2 separate regions of the Homo sapiens genome follow, and region 1 is linked to region 2. Evidence: fine-mapped expression QTL. Tissue or cell type: whole blood. Region 2 holds a variant in brackets; the other region holds the start of a gene. All regions are shown on one strand. Distances are between the middles of the regions.

What was found. PIP is the estimated chance that this variant, and not a neighbour inherited with it, causes the effect.
Region 1: ARHGEF11 starts here. The variant in region 2 is fine-mapped to the expression of ARHGEF11 in whole blood (TOPMed, PIP above 0.99). The same link has a PIP of 0.9 or more in lung.

The regions. Positions count from the first base shown.
Region 1 is chr1:157,041,023-157,049,022 of GRCh38, forward strand. It overlaps ARHGEF11 (Rho guanine nucleotide exchange factor 11), which reads right to left and starts at 4,720. Exons shown (of 41, transcript NM_198236.3): 1 at 3,277-4,720. The coding sequence starts at 3,308. RefSeq lists a silencer at 4,631-4,930.
Region 2 is chr1:157,166,527-157,174,739 of GRCh38, forward strand. It overlaps LOC107985211 (a long non-coding RNA gene), which reads left to right and starts at 6,965. Exons shown (of 4, transcript XR_007066653.1): 1 at 6,965-7,217. RefSeq lists an enhancer at 6,255-6,756. The variant A/C (reference allele first, on the strand shown) is at 4,184.

The sequences.
Region 1 (8,000 bases), 130 kb before region 2:
GACTCAAACCACAAACTCTTGGCTTAAAGTACTTTGGTTTGATCCTCACATGAACTAACTTTGGGCAGAGGAAAGATGTTTCATGGATGCAAACCCCTAACCCTCCTGTCCATCTCAAAAACATTTGCCATGGGGGAACCAGGCTAACAGATATAGATGGCTTAGCAAAACTCATGACCACTCCTGTAAAAATAATTTAGTATCATTATCTCTGTTTGCAATAGCAAACACATTTTTAGAAACTCTTGAAAGGAATATATATTAATGGGCAGTAAGTTGCCCATGGACAAAAACTGAAAGGGACATGAACAGCTACACTTTAGCCCATCTTTCAGTAACAACTGATTAACACTGAAAGATAAAGAATAGTTGCAAATACTTTATGCTTTCTATGGACCCAGGAGTCACTCTTGAACAGGGTGCTACAGGAGATGAAAGACTGCCAAGTAAATATTCCAAAATTTTCTTACTCTCAGCTACAATCTCTTTCCAAATACATAGTCCTTTATTATGTCATTTATTTTCTAGAAAATACACATTACCTAGGAAACCTTCTCTAATTGACCTTATTTGACTACATTTGAAATTAACACGTGAATGTTGAAACAACCCGCAATGAAATAATTTGTACTTGCTGATCTGTTCATTCACTCTAACATTCATTTGTCAAACATTTCTTGAGTACTCACCTCATGCAAGACACTAAGCTAGGCACACAGGATTTCATACAGGCAAACCAAACTGTCCCTGCTTGTGAGGGGCTTACAGTCTGGTGTTGCTTTATGTGGTCTTCAAGAGTCTTACGTGTTTCCCAGTCCCCCAGTTGCATGCTCTCTCTGTGAGCAAGTACTGTACACCTTAATTTTCTAAAACTCTCCTATAGCACCTTACACTAGGCTCTCTACACAGCAAACTGATAAACTGAAAGAATACTAGACTCCATAATCCGCAGCGTATTATTCCTTTCAGTGTGATTTAAATCTGTAAATTATTTAAAATCCATAGAGTCTTGAGGCTGATGTTGCCCAAAGTTACAATTGAATAAGCCTACAGTTAAGGGAGTAAGATTCAGTGCAGCTAGCTGGGGATGTCTGAAGGGGATCTGAGTCCTACCACTCTTAATGGGGAAGAGAATCAGGCAGGGTGGAGGTGAGGAATACCCTTACCCTGCAAAGCTGCACTATCTTACAAGAGAAAATAGTGCTTTAACTATAGGACTTACAGGTATGAGCCCCAAGACTGAACCCCCAAGGTAGGAGCCCCAAGACAGAAAAGTAGAAGGGAAGACCTTGACTGCTGACGGGCACTTTACCCTACTACCAAAGAGAAAGGAGAAAACGGTGCCCCACACATTCTACAGGACCAGTACAGAAGCCTAGTTAGACATGATGGGGCAATGAAAGAGCTACAGATTCAGACTCAGAAGACCTGTGTTTGAGTCTTTGAGTCCAGATTCTGCCACTAGCCAGGCAAGATGGCACTGGGCAAGCCAGGTAGCCTCTCTGAGCCTCAGTTTCCCCTTCTGTGAAACATGAATAATAACCTCTGATGCTTCTGTCTACCTCACACAGAACCACTGTGAGATTCAAATGAGATATGTTCTACGAAAGCACTTAGGAAACTGTAATGTGCTGGGCAAATCCTGAGATTTTTATCTATGAGGATATCCAAACCCCCAGGAGTGTCTCACATCAACCCAGGAAGGCTCACCGCCTCCTCCTTCTTGCACGCCCCCAAAACTTGGGTTCCCATCTTCTCAAATCCTTGCATTTACCAGAAAGAGTTCACCATCCAAATCTTAAAAAGGCAAGTGCACTAATTCTCAAACTCCAAGAGGATGAAAAGGGAAGAAGGGCAGCCATGTAAACCATTCCAATTCCTCACCTTGACACACCTCAGTTCTCCCTTTCCAAGGGTCAAACTGCAGAGAGGCCAACAGAAAGGAGGAAGGAGGTCTGAACTGGCCGTACATCCTTTGTGGCTGTCTGCCTCCTCTTCTCCACTGCCAAGTCAGTTCCCATCTAGGGACTGCTGAACTAATCTAAATGGGACTCTGAGGCAATACAGAGATTAGTGCTTGAGAGAGAGAGATTATATGCATTTTAGGCCACATTCCACAACCAAAAGGAAATTATTATTAGCATGGATAACCGAAGGTGGACTGGGCATGGAGGGAACAATTGCTCCCTTGCAAATATTCTTCCCTATCTCTCCAATAATATTTTTTTCCAGGCCCAGTCCTTTCATTTGCTTGTTCAGTCCTTCAACCACCCATCTATCCAGTTAGGATGTGTGCAGTGCCCACAAAACACACCCCCCACAGCAAGGTTCTCATGGGGAGAAGCGTTGAGGAGGGGTAGGGGAGGGAAGGAAAAGGCAGACACCTTACAAAGTTGTACCAATCATTTGGAGGTAAGAATTGCAACCACACAGTAACATTACCAGTGATAGAGGTGGCTGGGCAGACTCTTGGGGCAAGGGGTGTCATGTGTTCAGACTCTGAGGGCCAGTGCTGCTGCCCAGCAGGCCTACGAGCCCAAAACAATTTCTTCTGGCTCCAGGCAGAGGGAAGGCCCATTTTGCAGAGTCAAGCTTATTAAGAACAGCTTGGAAGATTAAACCTAGAGCATCAGCCGGTTGGCAGGTCTCAATTCAAACTCTAAGCTTGGAGGAGAGGAAATTCTAATGTGATCTATGCATTTTGGGACCATGTCAGCTACTGGTAAAAATCCAGACTTGCATGGGTGCAAAGGATGTTTCTGTCCCATCATTCAGGCCAAGAACATCCTCTTCATTTCTAGAAATGGGATCCACCCCGTCACCAAGCCCCACCATTCCATACCAACCAGCCTGGTGGAGGCCCACGCCTCTGCCAGGGCCCTTCTCCCAGCAGCTCCAACACCTAAAGCCAGTCCCCCTAGTGCAACCCTAGGAGCTCACAAGACTGGCTTGCCCCCACCTGAGACTAGCAAGTTGGGTGGACTCAAATTCAGCCTCTACCCTGGCAAAAGTCAAAAGCCACTGGAAGCACATCCTCCTCCTTTCCCTCTCCTGGCTTCACTGTTTATTGCTTATATTCAAAAGACGCTGAATCAAGAGCTATGTTTTTGCACATAACCACATAGGCTGACAGTCCCCAGAGACTAATGCTCCTAGCCCACCAATTCCCATAGCCCACCCAGACCCCTATTTTCAACCATTTATTAAAATGCAACACCACCCCTCCCAGTCTTTCCTTTAGTCAATGTTGAAAAATCAAATTATTAGCAAACCTACCTGTCTATACTCTGGGGTAACCTTACACTCATGGTTTCTCGGTGTCTCCACGGTTCCAGAATCCTGTAGCTTTGGTGTCTTGATCAGGATTGAATCGCTTGCAATTTTTGAGCAAGGTGAGAGGAGGGCCTCCCAACTTGAAGATAGAATCCTTTCTCCTCCAGCTCTCAGGACCCTGGTAACTGATGCTCCACTCTACTTCTACCAGTGAACATGATTTCCTTTCTCAGCCCCTCTTCCCCTCCCCCGCTTTAAAAAAAAAGAAAAGAAAAGAAAAAAGAAAAAAAAAGGAAAAGAGGAAAAACTACGACCTTCTCAGAAACCAAAAACCCAGCCACGAATCTCTTCAAGGTTAGCACTATGGCCAAAAAAAAATGAATCACAGAAAAATGTGCCTTCAAAATATCACTGTTAACTGCAAAGTACAGATAAAACCATCCTTTAAATCCAGCTTTCTCAGCTGTCCTTCTGTTGGCAAGAGACCCTCTAGCTCAAAGGGGGAAAGTAATTTTCTAGTCTCCAATGCTTAATATGACAACAGCAAATATCTTTGAGGAAAGGAAAAAAAAAAGGATTAATAAATCCGAAATGGCACTTGGAAAAATTCTTTCGGCTGATTTGTACAGTAAAATAATAAATAAAACCATACAATAGTATGTACACAACAGCACTCCTTCCAAGTCCAGTGCAACCCTGGGAACCAAAATTTATGGACTTCCTTAAAAAAAAAAAAGCTTTTACATTAAATGTTTTGAAATTCTTAAATGAGCCAATTGCACCAAAAAAAAAAATAAAATAAAAATCAAAGAACACCTGAAATGCAATGCTTTTTACCTTTAAGATGGTAGTAATGATAACAAACCAGAGATAATCTCTGAAAATATTCTCTCCTTTTCTTTTTCCTTTAAACTTGCAGGTTCCTCCACCTACCCCAGCCTGATTCTCAGACCCAGCCTACGTTCGGCCTTTTTCTGAAAGACAATTTCCTGAGTTAGTTCTGCTGTTGGGCTCCTCCACATCCAGGCTCCGAAATTTTCTCTTGCCTCAGCCTCCATGAAACGGAGATTTCGCTTCCTCCCGTTCCCCCTTCTCTCTCCCTCTCTCTCGCCCGGCCAGAAAGACGGCTCCCTTATTATTCGTTCGGATTATTATTGTGGATTTGAGTTCGAGGTGGGTTTTTCTTCCACACCAGACTCCTGGAAAATCCGATCGCCTGTCTCCTCTCGGCCTCTCCTTGCCTCCCTTTCCGCCCCTCGCCTAATCTCGCAGGCAGGAGCCCGCAGTGCCTCGCGCAGGACGCCCGGCCGGGCCTCGGGCTCCCGGCGCCGCTCGCCCCGCGCCCGACCGCCGTGTTCCGGCCTTCGCGGCCGCTCGGGACGCCAGGCTCGGCGCACAGGGAAGGCTGCGGCGGCTGCGGCAGGCCGGCACGAGCGGGCGTCCGACTGCCGGCGTCGCGGCCGCGCTCGCCTCCTTCCGGGCCCCTTCCCCCTCGGTTCGCCGCTCGCTCGGGCGCAGGCCCGGCCGGCCGCCCCCCTTCCCTCCCTCCTTCCCTGCGAGCCTTTCTCCTTCCCTCGCTCCCGCGGGGCGGGGCCGCAGGCTCCTCCTCCTCGCTGCGCTGCCCGCCGCCCGCCGGCCTTTCCCCTCACGCCGCGGCGGCCGGGGGCGGGGGCGGGAAGCTGACCGCCTTTCCCTGCCTCGGTTCCCGCGGCCGCGACTCCCGCCGACCGGCCCGCCCCTGTCCCGGCCTCCCTGCGCGCCCTGCCCCCCACAACCCTTTGCCGTCGCTCCTCGGCCGGTCCCCTCTGCGGCCCCTCAGTCGCCGGCCCTGCCCCTCGGCGCGGCCTAGCGGGTTCCCATCTCAGCCGGATCCCCGGCCCGGCCCGCGGGCGACCCCGGCCCTGACCCCGCCAGGCACCGCGCGCCGTCCCCGCCGCCGCCACCGCCACCGCCACCCCTGCCGCCTTTTCGCCGCTTTTCCTCGGCTGCTTTTCCCCCTTTTATTGACTTCTGCTCGGGAGCCGACCTTTGTTTCCTACCCCCTGCCCGCCCAGCCACCGTGCCCGCGCCCCGTGCCCCTGCCCACGGGTGCAGGTTTACCTCTTTGCGTCCACCGGCATTACCCCGGCGCCCGCAGCTGCGGCTCACCCTCTCTCCACCTCTCTTCTGATCTTATTTTTCAAACATTTGTTGCGGCCTCCTTCGTGGTGTCAGTTCTTTTAACTGTTTCCTCCCGTTTCTGTGGTCCTTCCCACTTCTAATACCACCGACTTAGGGGGAAGACCCTTCGCTGTTTCCTCTCGGGTTGGGTTGGGCATCTTAATAGCAGGCTGTGTGAAGTGTCTTTGAACTCTATGGAAGAGCCTTTCCAGAGCAATTCTATTTTCATAACCCCCTCTCATAGAATCACAGTTTCTAAATCTTTACAAGTAACGTGACATTTGTCAGAAGGTGCCGAGCGTTATGATTAAAAATCATTAAGGCCGAGGCGGGGCCTGAGGTCAGGAGTTCGAGACCATCCTGGGCCAACATGGTGAAACCCCCCCCCTCTACTAAAAATACAAAACTAGCCGTACGTGGTGGCGCGTGCCTGTAATCCCAGCTACTCGGTAGGCTAGGGCACGAGAATCGCTTGAACCCGGGAGGCGGAGCTTGCAGTGAGCCGAGATTGCGCCACTGCACTCCAGTCTGGGCAACAGAGCGAGACTCCGTCTCAAAAAACTAATAATAATAAAATTTTTTTTAAAAAATTATTAAAATAAAAAAACTCTCACTAGGATTGGGGAGTGGACTTTGCCTTCTTGCCTAGGTAAATGCCATTGTAAAATACTCTGCAGGCAGTGGGGTGTTTGCATAAGTTCTCTCCTTTCACACTACCTGGATTGTTCTGGGAGGGGGTGGATATGTATATGTAAATTATCTATACACATTCGTGAGCTCTGGAGTGACCTCACCAGTGTTAGAAGTGGTAGATATGCAAATTGCAAGAGGAAAAAGAAACGAATAAGCATCAGTTGAAGACCTACTATGAACCAGGAACTTTCCCTTTAATGTATATCAGGTATAGGTTGGCAAATAAAAGAACCTGCTTCCTTCACCCTGTCTCCACCAACCCCTAGGCCAGAACTCCCCAAAACAGGTGATCTGCCCAGCATTTGAAGCACAGTCTAGATTGTTGCTGACTTAATTGTGTCTTTCTTTCCCATACTACCCGCAAAAATGATGCTCTCAAATGTGGACACTGCTCTGTGGTGACAGACCACTGGTTGCCACACATTTTAAAATAATGTTTTCTTGGCCAGGTGCGGTGGCTCACGCCTGTAATCCCAGCACTTTGGGAGACCGAGGCGAGTGGATCACCTCAAGTCAGAAGTTCGAGACCAGCCTGGCCAACATGGTGAAACCCCGTCTCTACTAAAAATACAAAAAATTAGCTGGGTATGGTGGGGAGCGCCTGTAATCCTAGCTACTCCGGAGGTTGAGGCAGGAGAATCGCTTGAACCCGGGAGGCAGAGGTTGCAATCAGCCAAGATTGCGCCACTGCACACCAGCCTGGGTGACGAGTGAAACTCCATCTCAAAATGATAATAATAATGATAATGTGTTCTTAATATATGTAATATTTTTAAAGCAAGTATTTACATATATTTTATTACATATCTTATACAACATTGCCTAGTGTAGAAATATTAAAAGGTTGAAATTTAAAAATGAACATTTTTTAAATCATGCTTTTTGGTGAAAGTTAATTGCTGTCATAACTGGAAAAGATGCTTGCCAAAGATAGGTAGATTCAAACAGAAGAAGTATGCCCTTGATTGCATTTATTAAATCATGATACTTATTTTCCAATCCCATTCATCAACAATGCAAAGACTTCTAATTGAAATTCAACTAGTAAATTTATATCTTAAGTCAATCCTTCTTGAATGATTGGAAGGTGTTACATTTTTATATTCTTAACAAATGGGTTCCAGCCATTAAGAAATTTCATTTAACTTTAAAAAATAGGTTTTCAAATTCTGTTTCCTAATTTTTCAGTGTGCAAAGGTTTTGATAGGTGAAACCATTGTTTTTGGTAATTAAAAAAATCACAATATTGGAACCATTTCCAGTCATCCGTCTTCAAAATACTTTTTCCTAAAGTATGTGTTTCTTTAGAAAAGCAGTGACTTCCTCGCTCGTAGATAGACTGTCATCTTAACCTTGAAGGGACAGCTTGAAGGGACAGATTAAGCGGTGTTTTTGTTGTTTGTTTTTGTTTTTGCAAGTAAGTGCTAGGTAGCATACTCTTGACAGCCATTTCTCATCATAGAACACTGAAATAAAACTGTGCATCTCCTCCATGTTCAGTATTTCATTTTAGGCTTTCCCCAGGAGATTGTTAATCTGCACAGCAAAGATTTTCATGGTCATTCTCTGTCATTACAAAGAATTGTAAAGTTTGTAGCAGTTAACAGGCTTGTTTTTGTCTGGTGGGTGGCGTACATCATGAAGAAAATGAACGTCAATGGTGATGTTACCTCTGGTTCTTGGAACCTCCTCATATACTGTGTGTGACAGATGACTTCTGACATAGTGACTGAGTGAGAATGCCATGTCATTAGTGTTAGTAAAACCTAATTATTTTTGCTATAATTAAATACTATTATGAGTGCATTCTTTTTTTTTTTTTTTTTTTTTTTTTGAGACGGAGTCTCGCTCTGTCGCCGAGACTGGAGTGCAGT
Region 2 (8,213 bases):
AGAAATTACATTTGAAAGAAATCTCCTGGAAGGTGTGATTACCTTGACCAGACAAGGCCATGGAACACATCCAACCTCATGAGATACACCTGCTAACTGGTGTGGATTTAGCATTAGGGGACTCCAGGTCTGCTACACAGAGGCCTCTGATGTTGCCCAGATTCCGCTTTAACCACCGATTCCTGCAGGCTAGTGGCAATATTTTTCGAGTCATTAGAGCTGAGGTTCTTTCCTCTGGCATGATGCCAGCAGACAGTGGCATGGAGCAGACGACCAGGAAATTGATTAGCATCATTGAAACCCCGCTTGGCAATAACTCTTCAAATTCCCTAAAACATATTCTGGAAGAATTGCCCTCCAGAAAATAAAAAGGTGAGAGCCACAGTTGGAACTGAAACCCCAGGAATCTTCAAAGTGTGTGGGCAGGCCTGGTACTGCAGGAGCTTGGCTGCAGCTTGGGGGCTTCTAAGGGAGCTGGTGTGAGAGGTCTTGTCCTTTTTTAAGGCCAAACAAAACAAAGCAGCCAAACAGGGCTCTTTCCACCTCTTTGCTGTGCTGTGGTATGTCTCCCATCATGACTTCCATGGACTGGGGTCCCAGAAGCACTTGCTTGCCACAGTTTATTTTGTTTCTGGGTTAGATGGGACCCATGGCCTCCCCTTTGCCTATTAGCATCTCAGTGCAGCCATTCTTGCCTTTGGGACAAGCCTCAGTTCTTTATAAAGAGCACTGGCTTCTATCTGAACAGACCATCCCACCCTGTGGGCTGCCCAGCAGGTAGGCCTGCTGCTGCCGTCTGGTCGTTAAGTGTTCAGGGGGACCTTCAATTGGGAAAGGCCTGAAGCTGGCCTCAGTGGCACAGTAATTGGAGGCTCCCAGCAGCTGTGCAGACAATGCTGCACATTCCAGGGCAAGATACTTCATAGGAGCCTCCTCCTCTTGAAGCTGTGACATGTGCCTGTCTTGTGGGCCAACAGCCCCCCGACTCACTGAACAGATTCCCTGACCACTTCTTGCTGTCTTCCTGCAAAATGTGGCTTCCCTATACAGTTCCCCATACAGCTGAGCACCACAAAAGTGACAGGGTCCTGCTAGTCCCTGGGGAGAAGCAGATGCTTAAGACGAGGCACTGTGCCACCTGATGCATGTCCTTCCCACACATCGTCATCACCTGGCCCACCCTAAACTCAAAGTCGGCTTGCTAGAGCCATTCAAAGCCCCTGATGGGGGGATGAGGAAGGAATAAACAAAGAAAAGAGTGTTCTGAACACATAGGGCAGACAGCTAATTTCTAATATACCAAAGCTCTTACAAATGAATAAGGAAAAGATTAACAGCGCCCTAGAACAATGGGGAAAGACTGAAGACTCAAGAAATACAAATGGCCATTTAATATATAAGAGAACTGAAAGTTTGCTAATTGCTGTAGACCGAGTGTTTGTATCCTCCCTTCTTTCATAGGTTGAAACCTAATCCCTGATGAGATGGCTTTTGGAGGCAACTTTGGGAGGTGATTAGGTCATGAGGGCAGAGCCTCATGGATGGAATTAGGGCCCTTAGGAAAGACGGCCCAGAGAACTTCCTTGGCCCTTGCCCGTTTCCCTGTTTAACACCTCTCCCACACTTGACTGCACATGGTGTAGGCAGGAGCACTCACGCCGCGCTCATCCTGGTCCCCTGGCTGTGCCTGGCACAGAGGCTGTGCTCAGTGAGTATCTGAGGAATGGATGTGGAGTCAGCCCCTGTGAACCGAGACTCCAAACAGAGCCCGATCAATTTTCAGTTCTGCTTTTGTAAGTCAGCAGTGGGAACAGGGTTTTATTTGGAACGAGAGCTCCTGGGTAAGAGAGGGGAGAAGCCTCACACACAGACCTGGCCGGCCTCTGTGGAAATGATGTCTGGACATGCCTGAGTATCTGTCACGAACTGTGGTAATAAGAAGGAACATGGGCCTAGGAGTGGCAGCACTTTAAATAAAATAAACTTTATATTTTATAAAAGTTTTACATTACAGAAAAATTAGGCAGATAGTACCGAGAGTCCCACAGACTCCACACCTAGTTTCACCTTTTATCAACATCTTATGCTATTAACATCTGTTACAATTAATGAACCGATATGGATACATTCTTATGAACTCAAGTCCATACTTTCTTCAGACATCCTTAGTTTTTACGCGATGTCCTTTTCTGTTCCCAGATCCCACCCTACACATCTCTGTAGGCTCCTCTGGGCTGTGACAGCTACTCAGACTTTCCTTGTTTTCGCTGACTTTCGTGAGGGGTACTGGTCGTGTGTTTTGAAGAATGTTCCTCAATTGGGATTTGCCTGATGTTTCTCTCATGATGAGACTTGGATTTTGGGTCTTGGTTTTTGGGAGGAAGACCACAGAAGAAACACCATTTTCATCACGTTTTATCACAGTACATACTATCAACAGGACTTAATCTTATGTTGATGTTGATCACCTGTCAAAGATCGTGTTTGGCAGGTTCATCCACTGTCAATTTACCCTTTCCCCTTCCTTTACATATTGTATGCCTTGGAAAAAGTCATTCCATGGAGCCCACACTGCAGGAGTGAGAGTTAGGTGTCGCCTTCTTAAGGGTGGAGTATCTTCATAAGGTTTGGAATTATTCTCCACAGGAGATTCTTTCTTCTCGTCCAATTATTGATTCATTCAATTATGCATTGATATCATAGGAACTCATTGATATTTATTTTATATTTTGGGTTATTAATCAATACTACTTTATTTTGTGGCTCAAATAGTTTCCCATTGTGGCCATTGGCTGCTCTGTAGCAGGCTCCTGTCGTGTCTTTTTGTTGTTGTTCAGCACTTCCTTACGTTCTGGTTCTGGCACTACAGGACGCTCTGAGCTCACATTGTATATTTTGTTTCAGTCCCAGAATCAACAATCAGCCATTTCTCCAAAAAGGTCTAGTTCTTTTTGCAGGGATTGGCTTTAGAAACCAAGATCTAGACACAAAGTGTGCTTGGTTTCGAGCAGTAGGAGTGGAGAGGGGGATTTTCCATCTACAGACACAGATGCCACCTAAGTCCATAAGGTCTTATCATTTGCCTGCTTTGTTGGACATGAGCAGACTTTAAGGGCACAGATGGGTCAGAAATTCATCACAAACATCTTTAGAAGGGAATGAGAGTGGCTGAAGTAAAAGCCACTGAAGGAAATGTTATTTGGTCCTCCCAAAATATGAAAAAGTTAATGAATTCAGCAAAGAAAACATAGAGTCTGTTGTTTGCTACTGGACAAGCTCAGTAATAGTTGTCCTAGTGCAGATGTTATTGTAAAGGTGCGTTGAGAAAAGCAATCAAGATTGTATTGGGAGTGTAGGACAAGAACAAGCGCTTTGGGGCCAGAGTGACCTAGGTTTGAATCCTTACTGTTATTTATCTGTCTAGGATGTTGGACAAATCACTGCTTCTCTAAGCCTCACTTTCTCACCTGTGAAGTAGACATAATGATCATAATGTTTGGGGTTTTGTACATAGCAGAGCAGCTCCCTTGCTGTGATCTATTGAAACTCAGCCCTTGACACAAGGGTTTGTAAAAGAAAAAAGAAGAAAAGAAATAATAGAGTTGTTTGAGGATTCATGAGATGCATATCAAGTGTGTAGCCTCAGCCCCTGGCACATAGTAAGTGCTTAATAAATGTCAACTGTCTGATATATGGCCGGGGGCCCCTAGGCCAGGAAACACCTAAGCAGATGTCTGAGGCCCATAAGGCCTGTTGGACACCTGCACATATTATGTTAGAAGAACAGATTTTGGCTTTTTGTAGAGACTGCTTTAGGAGATGGCTCAAAACTAATTTAAGCCCAAATACAGGAACACCCAGGCAGAGCAATTAGCAGTAGATATTTTTCCTAGATTGGGGTGGGGATGCTGCTTTATTGCTTAGATTCTGATAAATGGACCTGTTTGTTCCAGTCTTTTAGATAGAAATGTATAATTTACTCTGCTTATCCATTTGCTTAGGTTTAATGACATTTCATTCTGATGAGTGAAGAATCTACTGTGTTTACGGAGGGAAAAATGCCTTATAGATATACATTTACATTTTTCTTTCATTGTAAATGGATTTTAGTGGCTCCTATTTTAAAATACAAAAGTGAGATGGCTGAGGAATTAGTGGGGGTATCTCTCCTCAGGTGTCTCCT[A/C]TCCTCAAGGAGAGGTTTTTTTTTTTAATTTAAAAATTTTAGGAAGGACAGGGTCTTGCTCTGTTGCCCAGGCTGGTCTTGAACTCCTGGCCTCAAGCAGTCCTCCCGCCTCTGCCTCCTAAAGTGCTGGAATTACAGGTGTGAGCCAACGAGCCGGCCAATAATTTTATTCTGAAATAAAATTTGGTAAACGCAGAGCCACGAGGGGGCGCCCTGGACTCTGGCCTGGTGGTAAATCCAGCACCTTCACAAAGGAGGAAGGATCTCCTAGATGCGGGGTTTGGAATGAAATAGGATCATTGGCTGAACATCTGCCGGGCACCTCACTGGGCACGCACAGGGCCTCACTTACTCAACGCAGACACTCCCTGAAGTGGGTGCTTGTGCCCCATTGTGATGAGCTCACAGGCTCAGGCAAGTTCAGCAATCTGTCCAGGGTCACTAAGGTAATAAGTGGGAAATGAGATTCAGACCCAATTCTGTGCAGTTCTAAAGCCTGGGCTTTCCCAGGCCAGCTGACTAAGGCTTCGGCCCATGTGGGGAGGGCTTGATACCTGGAAGGTGCTGGTCAGCGCGGAAGCGAGGCTGGTGGGCGCGTGTCCTCGGGACGAGGGTCACAGGCATCTGCCAACCAGGGAGGTGTTTGAAGCCGGGGTTAGGGAGTCTCGGGATGTTCCTGAATGTGGGACAAACAGTCTCTCACCGTGACCATCTCGGAGTCTGTGTCCAGCAACAGCCCTTGTGGTTGGGAAGAGACTTTGTTAATGGGAAGAGGGTGTCCTGATTCTCTGGCTTGGTACCTGTTCCCAGAGATGGGTGACTTTTATTGTAAATGAGAGACTTGGCATTCTGCTTTGTATATAATCTCGACTTAATTTTGTCACCATGAATGTGTCACTAGGAATTATTAAATTTGTAAGAATGTAAAGTTTTTGAGCCTGAAGCAATGAGGATAAGACGGTGGACTTTGAAAATCTCTCTCTGAGAGGTAGTGTCTTGGGGGAATTAGTGCTCCTGAAAACAGGGATGAGAAGCTGTGGCCCTGGGGAGCTAATGGGGGGTCAGGAACCAGGAAGGTGATGTTTATCAGGATGGGGAGAGAGGGCTGGAAGAGCATCAGGAGCAAGATAAGGGCAACAAACGCTTTCCGAGCATTAATCTGAGGTTAAAATTATCGTCCCCATTTTACACATGATGAAACTGATGCTTAGAGAAGTTACATAATTTGATTAGGATCAAACAGCTAATATTTGGCAAGGCTGGGACCTGAACCTGGTTTTCCAGATGCCGGTACCCAGTCACTTTCCATAATGCCAAATGGCTTCTCAGAAACTCAACACCTCTTCCCTAAGTGCTTTCCCTGTTTTCCTCAAATCCAGGAACTGTTGGTCTTTTGGGCAATTCTGAGCACAGCCACTAAGTGGCGACATTGCCCGACTATGGCTCAGCCCTGTTTCTCCGGGGAAGAATAGGGGAGGGGAGGGGAGGGAGTCGGAGTTGCCCTGTTGTGTGTTGTGCTGTGTGTGGGGCTTTCTTCTATCTATTTAGTCCTCCCAGCAACCCTGCAGAGGAGGTATTATCTCATTTTCCAGATGAGGCCATTGAGGATCTGCTGGATGACAGAGCTTAGCGGTAGAAGCAGGAATGGAATCAACGTCCAGTTGGATTCCAAGTCCTGTCTCCAAGCATGCTGGGCTCCCAAAGGAAAAGCCTTTCTGTGCCCTCAGACTACACAGTCTTGTGGGGAAGTGGACAGTGGGGACCCCACGTGAGTTTTAGGCTGGGACAGCCCAGCAGTGAAGGAGGAGGCTGGGTGAGGAGTAACCAAGCCTTAGCTTTGGTGATTGATGGGAAGAATTGGGTTCTGAGGTGGAAATCAATTACAGTTACAATCTGCTGTGTGGATCCCCTAGAGTGCTGCTCTACTGGAGACCAACATTCCATCCCTCAGCAAGTTTCTCCTTCTGCTTGGGAAGAGGCTGTGTTTTCTTCCCGATGAAATGGTTGGCTGGTGTTGAGGGGCCATGCTATATGAAAAATGTGTCCTGCATATTTAATTATTAGATCCACTCACAGACAGTGTGTGCTGGAGCCAGCTGGAGCCGGCTTGTGAGCTGGTTTTGTGCATCTCCTCCCAAATCTGTGTTCATAGTCATGATGTTGGTGGTTGTAATTAGACAGAGTGGGAATATTTACACCATGGAAATTAGCAATTACTAGAAACCAGGGCTTTTTCCTCCTGTGGAGCCAGTGGTTAAACTGCTACCTGCTCACTGCTGCCCACCAGGCAGCAGAAGGTGCACATCTGAGAGGCAGGCGAGAGCAGAGAGATGGACCAGGGGCACCATGGATTTGCGGCTCCCATGTCATACTTACTTTGGGATCTGAGTAGAATTGCTGCACATTTAAATGGATATTTTCCCGCCTCTCATATTTTTTTGCTGAGGGCAAATAACTGCATTTGAGAAGTTCAACCTGCATTTGATGCGCCTCCTCTGGCAAGCAAGATGGCTGATGCTGGAGTGTGTCTTGGGGCCCAGCCCTGAGCTGGAGCCCTGCAGGCTCCTAAGGAGGTGGGCACCACACAGCCAGGGTGGGCTGCTGTGTCAGCTATGGAACAATAGCACACACCTGACTGCTCAGGGCTGCCTGAGAACATTTAAGGGAGAGGAGCTCTCCTTCATTTTACCACAGAACGTGGGCCCCTTGTGGGCTGAGATGTCTGTCAGAAGGGGAGGTGCTGAGTGAGGCTGTGCTCTCTTTGAAACCACCTAGGGGCTCAGTGACAGCAGCAGGTGGTGACTGGACAGGAAGGGAAGTCTCCTCCAGTGCCAGGCTCAGGTGTGCTCAGTAAATATGTGCTGCATGACAATCAGAGCAGGCTGCCGCCTGTAGCCTAGATGGAAGCTGCTTGTCTTGTTCCAGAGCATACATGACACCCTCAGGGTCTTCATGGACAACAGCTAAGAGTGCTGGGAGAGCCCAGAGCACCTAATTCACCTGGGGCAGGTCGGGGACGGCTCCCCAGGGCCAGGTGAGCTGCATGTGGAAGGGGCAGCAGACGTTTGATAGGGGATGGCAGGGAAGGCTCTTACTCAGGCACTGGGTGCAGGTGGGCAGACTGGAGGCTGACGGGGCATCCTTCTGTGGTCCATAAGGAATGGGGCTAACCCCTGTAAATGAGGAGTTGTTTTCCCAGTGAACAGCTCCTGCTGGGCTCTCCCTTTCCTCTGTGCCCCATCGAGAGGGGGCTCAAAGGTCTGTGGGCACGTTCTGGGGTTGCAGTTGGGATCTGCAGAGACCACAGGCTTCCCTGGGGGGTGGAGCAGCTGTGACCTGAGTCCCTGGTGGGTTTGGAGGTTGGACTGGGTGATGTGGCCTGTCCTCCTCCTCTGCTGGATGAAAGAGAGATTCTGGAAACCAAGAACTGAGAAGGAACTCTTGAGATAAAGGAAGTCCTGCAGAAAGGCACCTGTCTGCTGTGGTTGGAGTGCGAATGTCACCAACACACTGACGTTGGGCGGGAGCTGGCCCTACCATAGGCCCAAGCTGTCTCTCCATCAGTGGGGCCTTTCCCAGGTTCAAAAGGTAACGTAGTTGGCATGATTGAGGTGGCGAAGACTAGGATGAAAACACCTTGTGAAATGAGACCATGAGCCCCGAGGGAGGAGGGCAGGGCTGGCCACCTCCACCTTAGAGTATGAGGGTCCCCAGTGAGACCACCGAGGCTTTTCAGGCCAGCATGTGTGCAGGGCTGTGCTGGGCGTGAGGCAGTGCAGGCCTGTTTGTGACTGGCAGAGTGTAGACGGAGGTGGCTGTGGTTGGTCCAGGGCTGCCTTGGGGCCCAGAGGCTCTGGATATGGAGCCACAGGCCTTGGTTCCTCTTCCTGGGGGTGGTATGAGGGAGGTGAGATGCCGCCTGGGACAGGCCTGGCCTCCCTCTCCCTTGGTGTGGCTCCTCAAGGTCTGAAGTCATCCTAGTGTGGCAGACTCACTTCACTGAGAGGGGACTTGAATTTGGAAAGACCAT